7 linked regions of the Homo sapiens genome follow. The protein of the gene in region 7 purifies or fractionates together with the protein of the main gene of each other region. This does not show direct contact. Each region holds a gene or a part of one and is shown on either strand. Other genes may lie near its edges. The genes, in order: ZNF317, URB1, LIN28A, DDX21, ZNF346, BMS1 and LLPH.

The links.
Region 1: the proteins of LLPH (region 7) and ZNF317 purify together in Homo sapiens (affinity purification with mass spectrometry; one large-scale study listed by BioGRID and IntAct). This does not show direct contact.
Region 2: the proteins of LLPH (region 7) and URB1 purify together in Homo sapiens (affinity purification with mass spectrometry; one large-scale study listed by BioGRID and IntAct). This does not show direct contact.
Region 3: the proteins of LLPH (region 7) and LIN28A purify together in Homo sapiens (co-immunoprecipitation; one large-scale study listed by IntAct). This does not show direct contact.
Region 4: the proteins of LLPH (region 7) and DDX21 purify together in Homo sapiens (affinity purification with mass spectrometry; 2 studies listed by BioGRID and IntAct, with this or other methods). This does not show direct contact.
Region 5: the proteins of LLPH (region 7) and ZNF346 purify together in Homo sapiens (affinity purification with mass spectrometry; one large-scale study listed by BioGRID and IntAct). This does not show direct contact.
Region 6: the proteins of LLPH (region 7) and BMS1 purify together in Homo sapiens (affinity purification with mass spectrometry; one large-scale study listed by BioGRID and IntAct). This does not show direct contact.

Annotation. Positions count from the first base shown.
Region 1 is NC_000019.10:9,143,397-9,146,896, reverse strand, and holds part of ZNF317 (zinc finger protein 317), read right to left. Parts: intron 1-3,500. UniProt on the Homo sapiens protein: May function as a transcription factor. May play an important role in erythroid maturation and lymphoid proliferation.
Region 2 is NC_000021.9:32,351,513-32,355,012, forward strand, and holds part of URB1 (nucleolar pre-ribosomal-associated protein 1), read right to left. Parts: intron 3,486-3,500; coding exon 3,347-3,485; intron 2,592-3,346; coding exon 2,421-2,591; intron 1,395-2,420; coding exon 1,198-1,394; intron 1-1,197.
Region 3 is NC_000001.11:26,424,317-26,427,816, reverse strand, and holds part of LIN28A (protein lin-28 homolog A), read right to left. Parts: intron 2,515-3,500; coding exon 2,330-2,514; intron 1,576-2,329; coding exon 1,359-1,575; 3' UTR 1-1,358. UniProt on the Homo sapiens protein: RNA-binding protein that inhibits processing of pre-let-7 miRNAs and regulates translation of mRNAs that control developmental timing, pluripotency and metabolism.
Region 4 is NC_000010.11:68,966,170-68,969,669, reverse strand, and holds part of DDX21 (nucleolar RNA helicase 2), read right to left. Parts: intron 2,653-3,500; coding exon 2,467-2,652; intron 695-2,466; coding exon 549-694; intron 1-548.
Region 5 is NC_000005.10:177,043,196-177,046,695, reverse strand, and holds part of ZNF346 (zinc finger protein 346), read right to left. Parts: intron 2,970-3,500; exon of another isoform or gene 2,480-2,969; coding exon of another isoform or gene 2,477-2,479; intron 2,308-2,476; coding exon 2,163-2,307; intron 1-2,162.
Region 6 is NC_000010.11:42,827,795-42,831,294, reverse strand, and holds part of BMS1 (ribosome biogenesis protein BMS1 homolog), read right to left. Parts: intron 1,035-3,500; coding exon 873-1,034; intron 430-872; coding exon 199-429; 3' UTR 1-198. UniProt on the Homo sapiens protein: GTPase required for the synthesis of 40S ribosomal subunits and for processing of pre-ribosomal RNA (pre-rRNA) at sites A0, A1, and A2.
Region 7 is NC_000012.12:66,118,403-66,120,750, forward strand, and holds part of LLPH (protein LLP homolog), read right to left. Parts: 3' UTR 1-2,348. UniProt on the Homo sapiens protein: In hippocampal neurons, regulates dendritic and spine growth and synaptic transmission.

The sequences.
Region 1 (3,500 bases), on a different chromosome or scaffold from region 7:
CCAATATTTGATTTTATCCCCATATTCAACTTAATCACAGTATCCCAGGATATTCAGAATTTGCAGATGTAAATACTGTAGAGAGAATAATTATTTTGTTACTTTTACTGACTGGTATTTCTGCCCTTGCTAGAACCATTTCTACCACTGTTATTCACGTAAATATAGGCCCAGCATGGTGGCTCATGCCTGTAATCTCAGCACTTTGGGAGGCTGAGGCGGGCAGATCATTTGAAGTCAGGAGTTCAAGACTGGCCTGGCCAACATGGTGAAACCCCGTTTCTACTAAAAATACAAAAAAATTAGCCAGGCATGGTGGCACATGCCTGTAGTCCCAGTTACTTGGGAGGCTGAGGTGGGAAGATTGCTTGAACCTGAGAGGCGGAGGTTGCAGTAAGCCAAGATCATGCCACTGCACTTCCAGCCTGGGTGACAGAAATGAGACACTGCCTCAAAAAAAAAAAAAAGAAAAAAAGTATATAAATAATATATACAATATATATATAGCGAGAGACAGAGAAGGCAACAAAGGTTGTGAGAACATCATATGCCATTTTCTTGGTCCAGAAATGCATTACATTAGTAAATCAATATACCCTCCTTTCAACCAGCTAGATGAGATGTCCCAGGGGGTGGGGAGCAGGGTAGGAATTCTGTTTCCAACAAGCAACCTAGGTGCCCCAATTAAACCTTCCATGCATAACTATTTCAAATGCAACACAAAGTACAGACAGATGATAGGTTTCAAATTCATGTGCTGGCAAGAAATTAACATTCAGAAAATTAAAAATTTATGATTTCTAAAGGGCAATTACAATTGCTAAAAAAAAAGCAAAATGGAAACCCACAACAAAAGCCCTAAGTAAATAGCTTTTAGATTATACACAGCCAATAATAATAATAATAATAATAATTTGTTTCTTAAATATAGTCTGCTGCATAAGCGTCCCCTGGAACACTTTAAGTAACTCTGACACCCAGATCATATCTCAGTTCAATTCTCTTTGGGGTGGGCTGATGAATCAGTATTTTAATAAACTCTACATGAAATTTTTATGAAGGCTGAAGTTTCAAAGCCAGTTGTAGCAATAAATGCAAGGGAAGCACAGAAAAAGAGTTGAGGAACATAAATACAGCTAAGAACCACGTGGGGGCAGAAGATAAGGAATTGAACCATTTCTAACTGGAGTTACTGATGAGAGACAGAGAAGGAGCCTAGGCAATCACTGCAAAATATAGTGGCTGTAGATTTTTCATTTTGAAGGAAAATATAAACAGATTGAAGAGAGATAAAATCTTAAGCACAATGAACCAGATAATACCAACGGTAAAAAGAATATCTGAACAGCAGCCAGAGGAGAAAAAGACAGGTTACCTTTTAAGCAATAGTTCTCAAACTTTAAGTTACATGGGAGTCACCTGGAGGTCTTGTTAAAACACACCGTAAATATCTCTCCATTAAGAAACAAAGTAAGCCTGGGCATGGTGGCCCACACCTGTAATCCCAGCATGCTGGGAGGCCAAGGCAGGTGGATCACTTGCACGCAGGAGTTCGAGACCAGCCTGGGCAACATACCAAGACCCTGTCTCAAAACAAAACAAAACGAAAAACTCACATTTCTAGGCTCCTAAAACCGCTGCCTGGCCAACATGGTGAAACCTTGTCTTTACTAAAAATACAAAAATTAGCTGGGTGTCATGGCCCATGCCTGTAATCCCAGCGACTCAGTAGGCTGAGGCAGGAGAATTGCTGGAACCCAGGAGGCAGAAGTTGCAGTGAGACGAGATTACGCCATTGCACTCCAGCCTGGGCAACAAGAGTGAGACTCTGTCTCAGAAAACAAACAAACAAACATTAGACTGACAGCTGACTTCTCATCATTAACAGTGGAAGCCAGAAGATAATGGAACATCTTCATAGTTCTGAAATATAAAATTCTATTACCACCAAAAATGTCCACTGAGAAAGAGAGAAAGAGGTGTTTTCTGAGCACCAAAAAACAAAGTTCCTGTGGGCTTGCAACCCACAGAAAAGAGACATCATCAAAGACATACCTCAGGGAGAAAGAAGTAATTAAAGAACCAAAGCAAACAGTGGAAGAATTACACCAAAAAGTGTAAGAACCAAGTAAAGTGCTCAAAGTGATAAACATGTGAGTATAATGAAACAAGAAATGATGGTATGCAATAGCAATAATAATTTCTTCTGAGGTTTAAAAAAAGAACTCAATATGTGCAACTATGATATATCAATAAAGAAAGAATGAAAATGCATAAGAAAACCATGTAAATCAGGAGAGTAACATATGCAAATCTAGATTTAGTGAATGAGCATGGGTAAGAATTATTTAGAACAACCACTGAAATAATAGAGTAAATAAATTCAAAATGTACAGAAAATAAAAAAGGAGAATGACAAAAATACACAAAAGAAGCTAGAGAAAAAACAGAAGACAAATGTAACATTCAAATATATTAATACAGAAGATGCTAACAGAATAAATGCTTTAACTAAAATACTAATATTCACAGAATAGATTAATCCAATTATATGCTACGTACAAGAGATATCTAAAATATAAGAATACAATAAGAGCCGGGCGCGGTGGCTCATGCCTGTAATCCCAATGCTTTGGGAGGCCAAGGCAGGTGGATCACCTGAGGTTGGGAGTTCGAGACCAGCCTGACCAATATGATGAAACCCCATCTCTACTGAAAATAAAAAAATTAGCTGGGTGTGGTGCCATGCGCCTGTACTTCCAGCTACTTGGGAGGCTGAGACAGGAGAATCACTTGATTCCAGGAGGTGGAGGTTGCAGTGAGCCAAGATCGCGCCATTGCACTCCAGCCTGGGCAAAAAGAGTGAAACTCCGTCTCAAAAAAAAGAAAGAAAGAAAGAAAGAAAGAAAGAAAAAAGAGTACAATAAGAATGGAAATAAAAGGATATATAAGGCAAGTAAAAAAAAAAAAAAAGAAAGCTGGTTTGAATGTTAGTATCAGACAGAATAGATTAAGGCAAAAAGGCTCATAGAGAAAAATGAAGTATTACATAATAAAAAGTTATAAATCCAAAAAGAGGTGTGTGTGTGTGCCTGTGTGTATAAAACACAGCCTCAAAAAAAAGGAAAACACAAAAATTAAAAAAAAAAAAGGGGGGACAGAATTCTAAGGAGAAATGGATGAAGCCACCACCAGAGCTCTCACAAATCCAGTTTAAGCAGGCAGTTCAATAACTATGTGCAGATTGAACATGATGAGACAGCACTCATGGGGCCATGTTTGTCTCAGAAAATGCTTGACCACAGAGCAATGCAGTTGGCAAACAATGACCAAAAGATAACCAGAAAAAAAGTCACAGAAATGAAAATTAAAAGAAAAAAATTCTAAATCTGCATGCCAAAGAAGCCATGATATTTGATATTTATAATTAAAATACAATAAAGTATGATACTGCAATTCTTTGGGATGTGACAGGCATTCAACATAAGAAACTGGAAAGA
Region 2 (3,500 bases), on a different chromosome or scaffold from region 7:
CAAGGCTGTAACATGCCCTGAAACTTGGTGGTTGTCAGTGTTCCCCAGGCCTGCAGCAGCATGTGTGAAATGCAAATTCTCAGGCTCCACCCAGACCTGCCGGGCCAGACACTGTGGCTGGAACCCGGCAGTCCAGTTTGAAAAGGCCCTCTGGGGAATTCCGACACACCCTGGAGGGTGAGAACCACTGCTAAGTCTTATTCCACAGAAGGTGGACACCCACTCCAAGCAACCACGAGGGGCAGGACAGAACCTCTAATACTGCCACATAAGTTGCTGTCTGGCTATCACTGTGGCCTACGTGTGGGGGAAGGTGGCAACATTATGGGTCAGGGCTCTGGAGCCAGACTGCCTGGGCCAAATCCTGACTCCGCCACTGACTGGTGTTGGAACCGCTCTGGGCCTCGGTTTCCCCATATGCATAAAGGATGGTGAGAGTCCCGGCCTACTTCTCAGAGTTACAGTAAGGATTAAACGGCCAAAAATACACATAGTACACTTAGTACAGGACCCGGTATGCCTCCAAAAAACACACAGAAAACATGCAATCGCTGTTGGCTATTGCTACCAATATCACAAGATAAGGAGGGTCTAAACTGACTGCTTTTTCGAATGCAGCTAAAATGAAATGAATGCACAAAAATGCATACCACAAATTTCGTGCCCCACACAGCATTGTAAATACCCTGCACATTGGAGCCAGAATCCCATTAAGAGAATGTAGTCCCCAGCAAAAGAAAATATACTTTTTCCTTTCCTTCCCCAACTTTAACAGAAGAGACCCTGCTGGAGGCCTTGAGGGGCCATGTGTGACAGCTGAGCACAGTTTGTCTAGGGCCATGCTAAGGTCTGCAGAGGAGAGCCAGGAGACAAGCACGCACAGATAACAAGGTAAGGAAAAAAAGGAAGAGGCAACGCTCCTGCCCCAGGCTGGAAGAGGAATTAACCTATTATCATTATCAGGGAGCCAATGGGGAATTTAATTTGGCTGCATCACTGAGTCCTGTGTGTTCAGTTATGTTAGCTGAGCACCAGGGATACTACTTAGCTTCCTCTCTTATGCAGGGGACTTTAGGGTAAGAAATTTCACCCTGCAGGCTGTCTGGCTACCCAACTGCACAGCTGTGGCCCAGCCAGCTGGGACCCTGGGAAGAACCCTGCACAGCAGCAGTGACCACAGCTGTGGCTGCAGCTCACCCAGGCCTCTCGGGCTTGCTCCGGGATCCAGAGGCTGTAGTATCTGTTAAACCGTGAGAGCTGCTGGCAGCAAGGCACCAGGCATGGAGGCTCAAGCTTATCATATGCCTGGAGCAGGAGACACAGAGCCAGGGGGTCCCTCTGGGTGTGGAGGAGGTCAGTCAGCACTGCCGTCAGATATGTCACAACGTTTTCCGCTGCAAAGGAACGAGATGCATATGGGAAGAGGCTGGCTGGGCCCACCCTTCTGTGACCTACCAACACCACCTTCTTCCACATACAGGCAAGACCCTGAAAAATTCATGCAACTCCATGAGGGGACACATAACCACAGGGAAGGAATTGCTACTACTGGAGACTGTACTAGGCTCTGTTTTATTAAACATATACAGCAAAGTCAGACATCCACTCCCGAGGCCCAGGAGTGAAGACCCAGGCATGTAAAAGGCCAGGCAAAAGCCACCTGGGACCAGGACTTGCTAGGTGCTCACCAATCCGTTTACTGTGCCTCGGCACACAAGCCTCTCTTGCGTGTAGGCTGGGACCACATGCCTGGTTAGTCACTTCCAGGCCATAACACCCCTTGCTTGACTGTCCACCCTTTCCAGTTCCCTTTCCATGGTGATCTTGGAAGCCATAAATTGAGATGGCATAGCTACAAAACGGGAGCAGCCTGAATCCCTGACCAACCTCCTAAAGGACAGCCAACCAGAAGAGCCACCTGGCCTGTATTGGACCACAGCATGGTCTAGAAACAGACCCTTATTTATTAAACTACTGACAAGTCAGGGCTTATTTGTTACTGCAGCAAAGCCTGAGTTCTCCCAACCAATCATGCTACTATAATCTGTGAGCACTTCCTTGGGTCTAAGTTGCCTGGAAAATCCAACAAGTATGAAGGATTCATCCTCTACATCAACGTATCAAGAATAAATGTTGACGAAAAAACATCAACGTTACAGAGGCTGTCTGGGCAGCCAGGCAAACACATTATTTCAGACTCACGCTCAAATGACCAATTTCCCAAAAGCCTAGCCAGCCCCAAGATCCCTCCCACTGTGCTCCTAGCTCTGCTGGCTGGGTAGCTATCACTCTGGGGGTTCTGACCTCCTATTGCCCTGGATTCTCAGCAATTGATCCCAGAGCCCCTGGAATCCCACCTCCCACCCTGCACAGACTAGCCGGCCAGGTGCAGCCAAGACATCCTGACTATACATAGGTACCTGCTTCATTGCCTGTCCCAAGGAGCAACTTATTCCTGGCTTCCAGGGCCGCAGGGACTACCGCACTGAATGGGAACGTGAGCAGGATCATGTCTTCACTCAACGTGAACCCTATTTCCTCATCCAAGCCTTCACTGCCCTCCACCAGGACATCCACCATGTCGAGAACATCTGAGACAGAAAGAGGAGAATCCAGCTGATGTGAGAGCCACTGAAGGGTTTCACTGCAAATACCCACAGGGAGGCAGAAGCAGAATACGTGCAAAAAGAAAAAAGCCAAATTCCTCTTGGGGGGAGCATTTAACATAGTTTGACCCTAAACAGACAAAAACATTGCCTATGAAATCTTTTGTATCTTTGTCTGATAAAATGCAGGATATTCAGCTGAGGTGGTAATAGGTTGAAGTTTCCTCAAGTGACACAAGAAGCCCAGGAACTTTAACCCAGATATTCAGGCAAACAAGCCAAAATCTGAGAGGCAAAATAGTGTGAGGGTTAAAGCACAGGCCAGAGCCAGAGTACCTGCGTTCTAATCCTGACTTTGCTATGTAGTAGCTGTATGAGCTTGAGCAAGTTATTATACTAAACCTCTCTGTGCCCCAGCCGCTTTATCTCTATATAAAATGAGTAGAATAATAATACTCTTTTCTCTTGGGGTTGCTTATGAGATTTACATGAGTTAGAACTTAAAAAGAGCTTAAAACCCTACCTGGCACCCAGTAAATACTATGCAAATAAAACAACAAGTGTTTCCCATTACATGAACACATAAGGAGATTATTTCCAGAACAGGCTGGTCTTTGCTGCAAAGGGACTGTGTGCACTTGGCCTAGGGCATTAGTGCAGTTCTTGTTCTCAATCTCTTAACACGTCACTGTGGCTTGGTCTTCAGACCTCTGAGCAGCGCAGAACAGAATGGAACATACCGTCAATGTGGGAGATGGGAATGCTCATGTCATCGGCTTCTTGCTTCGTCATAGTGGCCTGCAGCATGCTTGCTTCTTGGACAAAGTCAGATGCTTTGTCTGTGTATGAATAGGGATTCGCCACCAATGTCAATAAAATCTGGGCATTAAAGAG
Region 3 (3,500 bases), on a different chromosome or scaffold from region 7:
ACCCGAAAATTTTGAAAGGTTAAGGATCTCACCTTACTTCATATATCCATCCCTCGACAGCACAGGATTAAGTACAGGGGTATTGGTCTTTAAACTTATCCTTAGCAACTCTAGTTTTACAAACACACACACACCCTGTGGCACATGGTAGGCCTAACCTAATCTGGTGAAGAACAGATCTGGAGATGTAAAGCACGTCCTGTGCCATAGGATTAGACAACCCTCACCTAATCTTGGCTTGCTCTCTGGCCTTTTCACCGGGCCCAGCCTCTCCTAGCCTCTGTGTACCACCATTTCCTGTTTAGACTAATTCCCAATCTTCCAGTAGAAGGCAATCAAGTCATGGGGCCACCCAGTTAAAACCTAGTCTCCCATAAAACATTTTCAAGGCAGAGGGGGTTTCAAGAGGACACTATGGCAGAAAAGCCAGCTCTTATTGGCAAAAATGAGGTAGTTCAATAGGCTGTGCACTCCAAATAGTTGCTCTCCACGGTGGCAAAAACAACAAAAAGTAATTCCTGCTGCGCAGACCTGGAGCTGCTGCTGGCTATCCCTGAGATTGCTCATGTACCTGAGAACACAGTGCAGGAAATGAGGGCCTTAGATTAAAATATACAAAAATACAAAACCAGAATATTTATATTAAGGAAAAAAAGTTAAAATGCACAAGATACGTCATTCGCACACAGCTAGTGCAGTTGGCATCCTGGAGAAAGTGGGACCCAAGGTGCAGTATCCAAGGGAGCAAATAAATAAAATCACATTGGCCCAGAATGGGGCGGGGGTGAGCATAGAGCAGCAGGTCTGCAGCTGTTCCCCCAAACACCCTTTTTGCCATCATCATTACCCATTGCTTGGGACAGCTGCCAGCACCCTATCCCAAAAGTGGGTATGAGGATACAAGATGTGAAAAAAAAACAATGCTTACTCCTGAGAGATCTCCTTCCACAGAATGTAGTGGCTTGGCTCCATGAATCTGGTCTTATACTTAATCATTTCACTCTGGCATGGGAATTATTATATATCCTTCTTTAAAAGGAAAACAACTTCCCTATCCAGGCCACTTTCAAAAGCTGGAAATTCTGGGGATGGAGACTCAAAGTATGCAGGTTGTAGGGTGATTCCCCCCTCCTGGTTGCCCCCAGAACCCTCACTTGCATTTGGACAGAGCATGGTTGGAGTTCCTTTGACTCACCCTTTCCCCCCACCTAGAGGGAAGAAAGGGTGATGGTGTGAACCCAAGCCTGAGATACATGGCAGTGCCAACTAGCCCCAATGCACCCTATTCCCACTTTCTCCACTCTGCCTGCTCCTCAAAACTTCCTGATAGCAAAAGAATAGCCCCCACCCATTGTGGCTCAATTCTGTGCCTCCGGGAGCAGGGTAGGGCTGTGGATTTCTTCTTCTTCCTCTCGAAAGTAGGTTGGCTTTCCCTGTGCACTAGGGCCCTGCTGGGCCTTCAGCGGACATGAGGCTACCATATGGCTGATGCTCTGGCAGAAGTGGCACTTCTTGGGCTGGGGTGGCAGCTTGCATTCCTTGGCATGATGATCTAGACCTCCACAGTTGTAGCACCTAGTACAAAGCAAGATCGTAAAAGTAAGAGAAAGGAGCAAGAAGAGGCCAGATGCCTCCCACGAATGAGGACACCTGGGCTCTGGTACAGGTTTGTCACTTACTTCCCTTCCCAGAGACCAAACTTCCCACTTGCAAAAGGAGGACTATTACTAAATGATCTCTAAGTCCTTTCCACATCTAATTGTCTAGGTGATCTCTTCAGATTCATGTCAACTTGAAAATACCAAGATACCAGAAATATAAGTTACTGACCCCAACTAGGAACTGCAACTTGGGGGATAGGAGAGATTCTTCCATACCCTTAATATAGGAGAAATTAAAGAAGCCAAATTATAGTATCTGTTCAGAGCTAAGGGGCTTTAAGCCCAAGCAAGATTAAGGAAACCAGCCATTTGCAGACCTGGTAAAGCAGCAACAGATATAGATAATACTGTCTTGTCCCACCATTTGCAAATCTATGATCTCCTTTAATTCTAAAACCATCCTAGGATGTTAGTATCACTGCCTCACTTAACAATTGAGGCTTAGAGACCACAGAGCAAACTTACTTGTCCCAAGTAGCACTAAGTCACCCCCAGTGGCCTCCTCACCTACTGCCCTTGCCCACACCTATTGCAGGCGCTCAGCCTTCCAGATGCTGCCAGGGACCACAGGCTTCCCTTTGTCTTTTGCAGTGTGACCCAAAAAGTGACAGGATTGGGAGACTGGGGATGCCCTTAGCAACCTATATAAGCTGCCTTCCAATCCATACCTGTCTCCTTTTGATCTGCGCTTCTGCATGCTCTTTCCTTTTGGCCGCCTCTCACTCCCAATACAGAATACTCCACCAGGTCCGGTGACACGGATGGATTCCAGACCCTTGGCTGACTTCTTAAAGGTGAACTCCACTGCCTCACCCTCCTTCAAGCTCCGGAACCCTTCCATGTGCAGCTTACTCTGGTGAAGGGAAATGCAGTAAATTTTAACATTAATTTCCATTATTATACCAAAAGACAAGGAACTCTTATTCCTGTAGGGTAGGAATCAAATGTGATGGTACTCCTATTTTACTGGTAAGGAAACTGACTCAAAGAGTCACTACGATTAAGAACAACAAAGTCTACCAGTACATTAACAAAAATCGTAATTATATAAGCAGATGCCATGACATTTTTGTAGCTATTCAGGTTTAAAGTTCTTAATAAAATAGAACAGAGGGCCGGGTACGGTGGCTCACACCTATAATCCTAGCACTTTGAGAGGCTGAGGCGGGAGGATCACCTGAAGTCAGGAGTTCGAGACCAGCTTGGCCAACATGGTGAAACTCTGTCTCTACTAAAAATAAAAAAAATTAGCTGGGCGTGGTGGCGGGCACCTGTAATCCCAGCTACTTGGGAGACTGAGGCAGGAGAATTGCTTGAACCCAGGAAGCAAAGGTTGCAGTGAGCTGAGATCACACTATTGCACTCCAGCCTGGGCGACAGAGTGAGACTTTGTCTCAAAAACAAACAAACAAACAACAACAAACAGAAAAATTTGTAAATACAAGCATTTGGAAGAAATCAACAAATATAAAATTACGAAATTTAAAGTGTCACACTATAGAGGTTGCAGTGAGCCAAGATGGCGCCTTTGCACTCCAGCCTGGGCAACACAGCAAGACTTCGTCTCAAAAATAAATAAATAAAATAAAAGTAAAAATAGCTGGGCATGGTGGCTCAGCCACACACGGTGGCTTACGCCTTTAACCCCAGCACTTTGGGAGGCTGAAGCAGGTGGATCACGAGGTCCAGAGTTCGAGACCAGCCTGGCCAACATGGTGAAACCCTGTCTCTACTAAAAATACAAAAATTAGCCGGGTGTGGTGGTGGGCGCCTGTAATCCCAGCTACTTGGGCAGTTGGGGCAGGAGAGTTGCTTGAACCCCGGAGGCAGAGGTTTCAG
Region 4 (3,500 bases), on a different chromosome or scaffold from region 7:
TATGTTTACATAACTCAGATAGATTTAAGTTCCAAATCATTCTGAAATGAAATGAGGCCATAGATGATGAAATTTTAAAAACACAGATATCGGGCCGGGCGTGGTGGCTCACACCTGTAATCCCAGCACTTTGGGAGGCCGAGATGGGCAGATCACGAGGTCAAGAGATTGAGACTATCCTGGCCAACATGGTGAAACCCTGTCTCTACTAAAAATACAAAAATTAGCTGGGCGTGGTAGCGCATGCCTGTAGTCCCAGCCACTCAGGAGGCTGAGGCAGGAGAATCACTTGAACCTGGGAGGTGGAGGTTGCAGTGAACGGAGATTGCGCCACTGCACTCCAGCCTGGTGACAGAGCGAGACTCCATCTCAAAAAATAAAAATAAAAACACAGATATCATATACAGCTCAAATAGAAATATTTTTCCTTGGCTTTTCACATGGATTTAGTATTTATCTGGAAAAAGAGCATTTGCCAGTCTTAATACTAACAGACAAGAAAAAAATATATACAATTTTATATTCTGGCAACTAAGTAAATAATTTACCTCCACAGTTATTGCCGTTTTCTGAGTCTTTTTACCAATCAGGTCCACCTGTTCATATGTAGATTTCATGTATTTCTTGGCAACATTAAATACCCAATGAGGGCAAGTTGCAGAAAAAAGCAATGTTTGGGGATTGTCTTCAGAATCTTTGAGGAGGGGGAAAAAAAAAGTCAGTATGAATAATCCAAACAAGCCTACATAGTATTCCACCTAACCTAATACTTCCACAGTCCATCAATGTTCACCAGCAACCACCTGAGGCCAAGTCGGGCACTGAGGACACAAAACTGGAAGACAGAGGTTTCCCAATGGGCAAAGAAATACCGCTAGGTAATTTATCTAAAAGATCCTTAAAATAGTGAAAGTACTTTAAAGTTATTTTGCTTTCTGACCATTAGGCTTTTGAATTACAAACGAAATCTATTCTAAGATTTCTATTCTCAATATTTTATGAATTTAGAATTCTTGTCCAATCATTGAGTCCAGCTACTATTTTTGTTTGTTCAATTCTACTTAAGAGTGACATCACATTCTCAAACATTCCAAATAGAAGTGTGATAGAACCCTTCTGGAGAGAATTTGACAATGTATATTGAGGAGCATGAATTTTTTACACTTTTAAGCTCAGTAATTCCACTTCTGGAAATCTATCCTAAAGAACCAATTCCAGGCCAGGCACAGTGGCTCATGCCTGTAATTCCAATGCTTTCAGAGGTGGAGGCAGGAGGATCACTTGAGGCCAGGAATCAAGACAAGCCTGGGCAACACAGTGAGACCCTGTCTCTATCAATAATAAAAACATTAGCCAGGCATGGTGGCGCACGCCTGTAGCCCTAAGCTACTCAGGAAGCTGAGGCCCAGGAGTTTAGGGATGCAGTGAGCTATGATGGTGCCACTGTACTATAGCCTGAGTGACAGGGTGAGGGCCTATCTTAAAAATAAAAAAAGGGCGGCCGCGGTAGAGCACATCTGTAATCCCAGCATTCTGGGAGGCCAAAGTGGGAGGGAAGATCACTTGAGTCCAAGAGTTCAAGACCAGCATGGTGAAACCCAGCTCTACAAAAAACAGAAAAATTAGCTGGGCATGGTGGCGCACATCTATAGTCCCAGCTACTCGGAGGATTGCTTCAACCTGGAAGGTGGAGGCTGCAATGAGCCAAGATCCCACCACTGCACTCCAGCCTGGGTGACAGATTTAGACCCTGTCTCAAAAAAAAAAACAAAAAACAATTCCAGATATTGAGGTGAGAAGCTATCTGTATAAAAGTGGCTAAACAGAACTATTTATATTGAATAAAAATCAAACTAGGCAGATGGTAGAATTAAGTCATGGCCAACCACTTCATACAGTATTTTTGCTGAATTTTTATATGTATAGTCAGAGTATAATCAACACATATATACAATAAAATGCAAAACATCAGGAATACACCAAAAGCAGACCACATCAAGATGACAGAAGATGGTATTTTTCTTTACTTTTCCAAGTTTTCCCCATTGTGGTAATATGATAAATCATGACTTTTTTTTTCCTCACCAGCTTTAATCCCAGAGTAATGACTTTTTTTTTTTAATCCAAGTTTCTAGATAAAATGAGCCCCATTCCAATTTCCCAAGGCTTTATTAATCTCTTAGAAAACTACTTAGTCACCAGGCCAGGCGCAGTGGCTCATGCCTCTAATCCCAGCACTTTGGGAGGGTGAGGCAGTCGGATCACCTGGGGCTGGGAGTTTGAGACCAGCCTGGGCAATATGGCAAAACCCCATCTCTACTAAAAATACGAGGCCAGGCGTGGTGGTGGGTGCCTGTAATCCCAGTTACTAGGGTGGCTGAGGCATGAGAGTCACTTGAACCCAGGAGACAGAGTTACCACCCTTCCTTTGGTCTTTTTTATCAGCTTCTTGAATTTGTGGATTACCTTTCTTGTATGCCACACTTAAAATCTCTTCCACTTGATCAGCAAATCCCATATCCAACATCTGGTCCACTTCATCCAGGACAACATGCTTAAGTTTGGTGAGATCTAGTTTGCCATTCTGTATGTGGTCTTTGATACGACCTGGTGTTCCAACCAGGATATCAATCCCATTCCTCATGCGTTCAACTATAAAAAACAATGACAAGATTTGCTGGGTTTTTAGTAAGTACTTTTATCTGTGTGGGGTACCACAGTTAACTGTATTGTTACTCTAAAATATTTGTTAAATACCTACAAGTACAAAGTAATATGCTAAGTAATAATGATAAAGATACTCATGGCACTCCTAATCTAGTGGGAAAAACATTAGAAGTGAAAAATATCAACAAAATTTAAAGCACCCAATTATAGTAAATATTTGAAGTGACAGTCTAGTGTACAAAGTGACATAAAAGAAATATGCAGCCGGGCGTGGTGGGTCACGCCTGTAATCCCAGCACTTTGGGAGGCCAAGGTGGGTGGATCATGAGATCAGGAGTTTAAGACCAGCCTGGCCAACATGGTGAAACACCATCTTTACTAAAACTACAAAAATTAACCAGGCGCAGTGGTGGGCGCCTGTAATCCCAGCTACTCGGGAGGCTGAGGCAGGAGAATCGCTTGAACCTGGGCAACAGAGGTTGCAGTGAGCCAAGATCACGCCACTGCACTCCAGCCTGGGCCACAGAGTGAGACTCTGTCTCACCAAATAAATAAATAAATAAATGAAAAAGAAAGAAAGAAATATGCACTACTGGAGGACAATAGCATCAGGAAAGAAATTACTTCCGGCTGGGCACGGTGGCTCACGCCTGTAATCCCAGCACTTTGGGAGACTGAGGCTGGCAGATCATGAGGTCAGGAGTTCGAGATCAGCCTGGCCGATATGGTGAAACCCTGTCTCTACTAAAAATACAAAAATTAGCCGGGCGTGGGAGCCTCCCAGGTTCACGCCACTCTCCTGCCTCAGCCTCCCGAGTAGCTGGGACTACAGG
Region 5 (3,500 bases), on a different chromosome or scaffold from region 7:
AAACCAAAATGTTAACAGTGTTTATCTGTGAATGGTAAAATTATGGGTAACTTTTCTTTCCATTTATCCATGTTTTCCTTATCTCTTACAACATGATTATATTACTTTACATTAAAAAGTGTTTAATTTCAGAAATATAGTTATAAAGTTGTGTAATAACATGGAAATGTGCTTAAGCTGTAAAATTAAATGAAAAGTAAAAGCGGGATATAAAGGGTACCTGCATTATGATCACAACTATATAAAAACAAAGTATGTGGCAAAAGCTGAAAGTGAATATGGAAAATAATCTCGAGTATGAAATTTCAGGGACAAGGCATAATGCAGAGAATTTTCCCATTTGTGGGAAGAGAAGTCTGTGACCTTATAAAATTGGTTTTTTTTTTTTTTTTTTTGAGACGAGGTCTTGCTCTGTCCCCCAGGCTGGTGTACAATGGTGCGATCTCAGCTCACTGCAACCTCCAGCTCCCGGGTTCAAGCGATTCTCTTGCCTCAGTCTCCCAAGAAGCTGGGACTACAGGCTCGTGCCACCACACCCAGCTAATTTTTGTTATTTTTAGTAGAGATTGGGTTTCACCGTGTTGACCAGGCTGGTCTTGAACTCCTGACTTCAAGTGATCTGCCCACCTCAGCCTCCCAAAGTGCTGGGATTACAACAGGCATGAGCCACCATGCCCGGCCTATGTCCTGTGTTTTTAATACACATTATTGTATCCTCACAACCGATGAAGTAGACAGTATTATTATCATTTTATAGGTTAGGCAGTTCAGACACAAAAAAGTCATATAAACAGTAACAGTGCCAGGCTTTAAACCTGGGACTCTGTGACTTCAAAGTCCACATTCTGCTGTTTCATACCATGAATAACTAGATGTGGGTGTGATAAAAAGGTGTAATTATGAGTGGCCAGGTGTGGTGGCTCATGCCTGTAATCCCAGCACTCTGGGAAGCTGAGATGGGAGTATCACTTAAGGCCAGGAGTTCAAGACCAGCCTGAGCAATATAGTGAGAAGCCATCTCTATTTAAAAAAAAAGGTTTTGGCCGGCGTGGTGGCTTATGCCTGTATTCCTAACACTTTGGGAGGCCGAGGCAGGTGGATCACGAGGTCAGGAGTTTGAGACCATCCTGGCTAACACAGTGAAACCCCGTTTCTACTAAAAAATACAAAAAAATTAGCTGGGCATGGTGGTGGGCACCTGTAGTCCCAGCTACTTGGGAGGCTGAGGCTGAAGAATGGCATGAACCTGGGAGGTAGAGCTTGCAGTGAGCCGAGATCATGCCACTGCACTCTAACCTAGGCAACAGAGCGAGACTCCATCTCAAAAAAAAAAAATTATGAGTGATTTTTCACCCTACCTTTGAAGGCTTCCAAAACACAGTTGTCAGTAAACACAAAAAGGATAATAGTATTACTAATAGTGTAGTCTACTTCTTGGTCCAAAATAGAGAAGCAAAAATTATCAAGAAAACAATGAAATAAACATCAAAGAACTTTCACTCTTGACTAATTGCAATTAGCAGAGGTTAAAACCCCAGAAAGTCAGGAGTTAATGAGATGAAAGTGAGGGCTGAGCCCTAGTCGTGACGAGATAAAGGGGGCTATTTCAGAAGTCACTGTACTGGGAATGAATTCATGGCAGTTACAGATTGTGGGGCAGTAGTAGCAGCACTGAAGTATTCAGCTTTGAAAGGCAAGTCCCTGTCTTGAGGAGAACAGGCAGCTTTTGAGGATTAAAGTGAGTAGGCCATAACCTGAGCATGTGAAAAAGACAAGGATTTAGCTTTCAACTTGGAACATGCAGTAATAAGGGCAGGTGGATGCTGGGATGGAAAAATCTAGTGGGAGAGGTAGGAGATAGAATGCTCTCATGGTATGCGTGGCCTGGAGGACTTTGGCACTCCTGAGTTATAATTATTAGTCAGGACAAAAGCTCAGCCTATAGAGAAAAACCTATAACCAAAGAAAGGGAGGTTAGGTGAGCATAATTCTGAGATTGCATTTCAGTGAAGCTGGGTCTACTTGGAGATTTTTAAGGGTTCTCAAAAGCAATTCAACTTCTTCAAGTCTGTGGCCTCAGTGAGGATCTCTGTGAGCCCCTGGCAGTAGTGCCCTGAGGACGGCAGGGGTCCCACTATAGCACTACTCAGGAAAACCAGTACCTTCCACCTTAGTGGACTGCTGCTTCAGCTTTAAGTTCTTTGCGTGGGTCTTCCCCAGGTAGTGCGACTGGGCCACGACAGGGGAGGAAAAGGTCATGTTACAGATGGGGCAGCACTGGTTCTTGTCTTTGCTTCTGCTGCTCTTCTGGTTGGAAGAAAGAACACAGGTCTGATCATACCACTGCCCCACCAGAAAATCTTCAATGGTTCCCCACTGCCCATAACAGAACAGGCATTTATGGCCCCCCTCACACATTAACCCCAACCTACTTTCTAGATTCTTCTCCAGCTACTTTGTCCCAGACTCTACTCACCATCCCCCACTTTATTCTCTGATGCTTCCTTGCTTTGCTTTGGCCATTCCTGCTGTCTAAAATGTGCTTCCTTCCTTTCCTGCTTGGCAGCGTGTCTGCTTAGCCTTCAAGACCCAATTTAAATATAAGCTTTTCCTCTGGGGGACTTTCTCTCAAAAAAAAAAAAACATCATTCAGTAAACAACTGTCAAGTCCCTTTGTGTATTCCAGGAAGAATTAACCCTGCTCCTCTTCTGTGCTCCCAGAGTACATTAAATAGACCTCTGTCATACCACTTGCCACCCTAAACTGACAGTGTCATAGCTTAGGAGACTTTTCTGTGAACTCAAGTGTGACATTGGAACACGGACTATTTGACTCATTTTTGTTTCTTATCCTTCACACCCAGCTGGAGTCTGGCACACAGTAGATGCTCAGAGTTTGCTGAACAAGTGGACCATTAGGTTTTTTTTTTTTAAGACAGGGTCTCACTCTGTTGCCCAGGCTGGAGTGCAGTGGCACGATCTCGGCTCACTGCAACCTCCACCTCCAGGGCTCAAGCAATTCTCCCACCCACCCCTGCAAGTAGCCAGACTACAGGAATATGCCACCACACCCGGCTAATTTTTGTATTTTTTATAGAGACGGGGTTTCACCATATTGCCTAGGGTGGTCTCGAATTCCCAAGCTCAAGCAATCCGCCTGCCTCAGCCACCTAAATTGCTAGGATTACAGGTATGAGCCACCGCACCCAGCCTCCCATTGCGTTCTACTTGTTGATTATGATTAGGCTAGGAAACCATGTATTTCAAGACTACATAAAGGGATCCCAGCATCTCTCTCAGAAAGCCTGATCTCTGAATAGGGTGCAAATATGTAAAATAACTTGCCCAGGGTCATAGAGTTTATCTTGCCTTTCTGAATTATAAATTGTGAGAAAAGGGCCAGGTGTGGTGGCTCATACCTGTAATCCTGGTACTTTGGGAGCCTGAGGTGGGAGGATCACTTGAGACCAGGAATTTGAGACCAGCCTGGGCAACAAAGC
Region 6 (3,500 bases), on a different chromosome or scaffold from region 7:
CTCGACAGCCCCAAGTCATGAGAATGAACCCAGTCCCAGCAGCCCAGGCTTCTCTGTTCCTCCTCCTGCAGGCACAGTTTGAGTAGAGACATCTCTTGAGCTCTTTCCCACTGACTTGTCATTCACAGGCATTCAAACTGTGATGTTTGAAACTGTCTACCTCCGCAGATCCAGGGACAGTCCCTCCAGTCCAAAGGCTCACTGCAATTGGCCCTCAGCCCCCTTCAAACTGGACTTCTGGTTTCTTCTTTCCTTCTGCCCCTGAATTCTGAAGAGCTTCTTCCTGAGGTCCTTCTGCCGCTTCAGCTTCTCCTCCTCCTCCTTCTGCTTGGCTCTGAAGTGCTCTTTATTGTGCAGGTGCCGCTGCTCCTTGGCCTTCTTCATCTTCTGACTATGCACCGTACTCAGAGCATCCAGCAGTGCAAGGATCTGACAAGGACAAAAGCCGGTGAGTATCAGAATGCTCTCAGACACCACACACTCGCATCCTAAGCACTAAGACTAGAGGCAACCCACGATCCAAATGAATATTAACTGCATGAAAATGCATCCTGTGCTAGGAAGTCATTGTTGGCATGGAGACACAGGTGTGATCCCATTTTACCTTTACCACCTCTGTTCATCATTCTGTGGACACTGTGTGCAGCTAACCGAGACAGAAGGGTTCCCCAGCCATGTACCTGTTATCCCCCATGAAAAGCACAGGGCAGAGCAGGACCAGGCAAAGAAAGGGAAATGGACTCTGGCTCTTCCTCTGACTTTAGTTCCAGTGCCCTGAATAACTGAGACTACAGTAGAAACAGGAAGTGTGCTATTGAGAGTGTTCTTTTCCTATCTAAACGCAGCGTGCAGTACAGCATGGGCAACAGTACCTTTCTTTCATGAGGCTCGCGTATGACGGCCGGTCTCCGCCTGTCCTTTGGCACCTTGCCTGCCTTTGCTTGGGTCTTGGGCTTGTTCTTAAATGGCAGGGCCTTCTGCAAGGCTTTTGGAATGTGCAGTGAATTAAAATGTTTCTTTTGCCTCAGGATTGGCTGAAAAGAAAAACAAAGACTGTGACATATTCAAATTATGATCAATGTGCATTTAAAACTTCTGCATAAAATCTTCTCAATGGGTTGACTTTTCCACAAGATTAGTAACACCAGAGTCTGCCGGCCCTGAGAAATCAGGACTCAATCATCTGCCAAATATGAACTGCCTCAGTGGACACCCACAATTCTCAGTAAACAGAGGAACAGACAGCTTACACTTACAACTCTCCCCCCAAAACCCACTGTGCCCATTTCTATGGTATGGAACTATGGGGTCTCAACAGAACAGATGAATAGATCCCAGTTTCTTTTCATGGAAATTTCAGGCCTTGTCTTTGGGCCACTGAGGTGCTTATTTCCCAGACTAACAAAAATAATCTAGCTTTTTGTCTTGACTATCAACCACTCTGGATGTTTTTTTTGTTTTGTTTTGTTTTTTTGAGATGGAGTCTTGCCTTGACGCCCAGGCTAGAGAGCAGTGCCGTGATCTCGGCTCATGCAACCTCCACCTCCTGGGTTCAAGCAATTCTCCTGTCTCAGCCTCCCAAGTATCTGGGACTACAGGCACACACCACCACGCCCGGCTAATTTTTGTATTTTCAGTAGAGATGGGGTTTCACCATGTTGGTCATGCTGGTCTTGAAATCTTGAACTCCTGACCTCAGGTGATCCACCTGCCTTGGCCTCCCAAAGTGCTAGGATTACAGGCATGAGCCACCACAACTGGCCCACTCTGGATTTAAGGACAGTTCTTCCTTCAATCAGCAGCCAAAGAGTCCTGATTCCTGATTCTAATTAAGAAGTTTAACTTGGTATTCTATTTCTGATGGAAGGATGGCTAAAAGAAGGGAGACTCAAACAACAGATGAAGGCAAAATACTCTGCACTGAATTTTCAAGGTAATCTTAAATTCTATATTTAATTGAGATGACCCAAATTCTTTTTTTTTTGAGATGGAGTCTCGCTCTGTCGCCCAGGCTAGAGTGCAGTGGCATGATCTCGGCTCACTGCAACCTCTGCCCCTGGGTTCACGCCATTCTCTTGCCTCAGCCTCCCGAGTAGCTGGGACTACAGGCGCCCGCCACCACGCCTGGCTAATTTTTTGTATTTTTAGTGGAGACGGAGGATGACCCAAATTCTTAACTGCCTCATAAATACTGTTAATAAATTGAAAGTTTTGCCCTAGGCTTTTGTTAAAGTCAACTATATAGAACAAGTTTCTCCTATCTTGAAATGTATTATTAAAGACATCATCCCCAATAATATTCCATATTCTTTGTTTAGGAACCCCGATTGTTTTTGAATTCAAGAATTCAGAGAAATCTACTTGTTACAAAAGAGTAGAATGGATAATGGGCACCACATCCTGAAGTGTATTTTAATAAAAATTCATGTAAGACGGTTCAAAATTTCATTAACTACTTTATATAAAAAGAAATGCCTGGGAGACTTCTGTTTCTAGCAGAGTGGCAGACTGATGCCTTGAACAACCCTCTTATTACAAAACTGAACACTCCACATGAAAACAAATCTTTTCAAATGCATTGTTAAGCTGTGAAGAGAATAACAACAGTTCTAAGAAACCAAAATCTAAATGAAAACACAAGTCCAGGCAGGCATTGAAAACCTAAAATAAAAAAAAAAAAACTGAAGAGGCCAATTGTCAGCAAGCACGTGGAACAGCAGGAACTCTTTAAGCTGCTGCTGGTGGTGGAGGCCAAGCCGCTGTGCTCCCAGAACACGACACAGAAGCCTCCACACTGAAGCAGAGCACAGGTGCCCTGGAGTCTCCACCCTACCCAGGGATCCTCCAGCAGAAGTGTGTGTGCCCCTCCGTACCTGCAAGTCCCATATCCAGACCTTAGTGTTAAGGGCCGTGGGATAACGGCCAAAAATAGGAAATCATTTTACCCATCAATGGATAAATGGTGACACAGTCATATACTGGAACTCAACAATGACAATAAATCAATGTCTGCCATAGACAAGAACATGGATGTGTTCTGTAATACTCAACCAAAGAAGCCAGGCTAAATAGAATGTGCTGTATTTTATAAAAGTCAAAACCAGGCAGAACAAATCTACGTCAGGAACTGGCAAAGTAGCTATTTTGTGGGTTGGGGAGGCAGTGCCTGGGAGAGGCCACAGGGCGAGGCTACTGCTTGGTCCAGGGCGTGGCAGCTGGTGTGCTACAGTTCATCTAGCTGCACACTTATGATTTGGGCACTCTTCTGTATGTACATTAACATTTCAATAAAAAGCTTATTAAAACATTAAAACTTTCAGAAAAATCCACATTGCTTTAATAGAAATTAGCACATTAATGTTTTAAAAATACATGTATATGGTGGGGAAAAAAATAGTTCAAAAGAGTACCCAGTGAAAAGTTTAAGAGGGAGTGATGCCAGCAAGGGGCCGATCAATAGCCCCTTGCGCTCATCCCCTGACAAAGACAGCCAAAGCAGC
Region 7 (2,348 bases):
GTCTGAGGCCTTCACATTCACTCATGGCTTACTCATTGACTCACCCCAAGCACGAGTCCTCCAAGCACTATTCATAAGTGGTACAGGTGTACCATTTTTTTATCTTTTATACTGTATTTTTACTGTACCTTTTCTATGTTTAGATACACAAATACTTCCCATTGTGATACAATTGCCTACAGTACTCAGTACAGTAACTTGCTTGACCAATTTGTAGCCTAGAAGCAATAGGCTATATCACATAGCCTAAGTGTAGTAGACGATACCCTCTAGATTTGTGTAAGTACAGTCTATGATATTCACACAATGATTAACGATATTACCTAGTGACACACTTCTCAGAACACATCCCAGTCATTTAGTGACATATGACTATATATGGGAGGATGGGCATGGGTTATATGCAAATATTTCACCAGTTTATGTAAGCGATTCGAGCATCTGTGGATTTTGGTATCTGTGAAGATCCTGGCACCAATCCCCGATAGATTCTGAAGGATAACTCTACAGTGTTTGAATCCATTTTGCTACATTCCAACCAAATGCCTGTCCACCTTAGACTGACACCTCAAGGATCCCAAGGTGCCCATTTCAGCTCCCAAAATCTTGGTTAGAAGGCGCTTCCTTAAATCAAATAAAAGTCTGTCTCTCTGTAGCTTTCCATCATAGGTATTCATTCTATACTCTGGGACAGGCGGCTTGCTCACTACTTAGCAGTTGCATGACTTTGGGTAAATTTAGTTAACCTTTCAAACTGTTTTCTCATCTGAAAATAGGGATAATTAAAGTATTGATCCCACAGTGTTTTAAAGATTAAATAATATACATAAAGCATTTAAGAGAGTACGCATTCTCTAAATGTTGGCTGTTGGGTTATTTTTACTGCTTGCCTACCAAATTAAGCTTATTTGGCAACACATTGTATTTTCTCCCCTGCTCTAAAATAACTGCAAAAGACTCTTGGCATTCAACTGCGGAAAATTTAGGGTTTTGTAAGCAGGCCCAAAAGTGGCCCTGGGCCTCCTGGCTACCTGACAGTCCTCTGGAAACAGCAGAGTGACCTTTGACCTGATGTAAGTATTTAACAGTCCCACCTCACCCCTAAACATTTCCTTGTAAAATTGGTATGTGTCTACTGCAACAGTGTTTTTATTAATACATGCAGGCAAATAGAGGGAAAAAGACATATATTTTGTGTTTAGCACAAATTTGAATCACTCTGCCAGATGGCATCAGAAGTTAGTCACTTAACTAGTAAGATTAGCCAACAGCTTAGCATCTGCATTTCTATTGTAGTATTTATAAATTTGGCAATGCCTTAGATTCCTCCCAATTTTATGTTGTGGTCAGCACTTCCCTAAATTACACATTGCTGCCCCTCACCATCACCACCAGTCCATTTCAGATATTTGATTCAAGTCATTTATAGCTATTTTTCTTCTCCAACTCTTAAGCCATATTCCAGAAACACGGATCCAAATTTTGAAAATATCTGAATTTCCTAATAAGCAAATATATACTGCTGCATCCTTATTTGATGTAGCATGTGAATTACATAGTGGGAAGAGATATCTACACTAATGTGACAGTAGAAAATAGGATGTGGTCAAAACCACTACTTGATTCTACCTTAGAGCTTCAACTGCAGTTTGCATTTCTTCTCTGATTAGTACCTTGGGCAACTACTGATCATGGCCTACACCTTCCCCTTTTGGATTGGTCAGCCCATTCCTAATGAAGTGTCACCTGAGGAAATCCAGTCTGCCTTAGGCCTAGAGATTTGAGGAGGGTTCTGTACATCATTATTCTACTTAAACCTGCTCTTTATCTGATCCTGAGCCCACATGAACCCAATCTATCACAGGTTGACCCAAAAATAGGTATTCTATCCTAAAATCACCTTTCTCTCTTAGCAAGAGTTTGCACATCCTTGAGAGGCAGAATGGCATTGTAAGAGTATAGGCTCTAGAGCCACACTGCCTAAATTTGAATCCCAGATTTCAGTTTTAGTTGTATGGCCTGTGTGCCTCAGTTTCCCCATGTGTAAACAGAGATTACATTAGTACCAAACTCAGATAACATTAGTACCAAACTCATGAGATTGCTGGGCAGATTAAATGAGTTAATACTTGAAGCAGTTTTGATCATCTTTAAATTATATTTTGATTTCAGACTTAATTTCTTAAAACACAAAAAGTGTTACATTCAATTCCTAATGTGATTTAGCTCACTCAATCTAATTCCAAAATGATTTGGTGCTTAGCTTGAGCTCCATCTTGTGGCTTTACAGCAATTCTCTGGAAAATGTCAGTCAAAAAGATGACAAATTTCAAAAAAATAAGCTAATT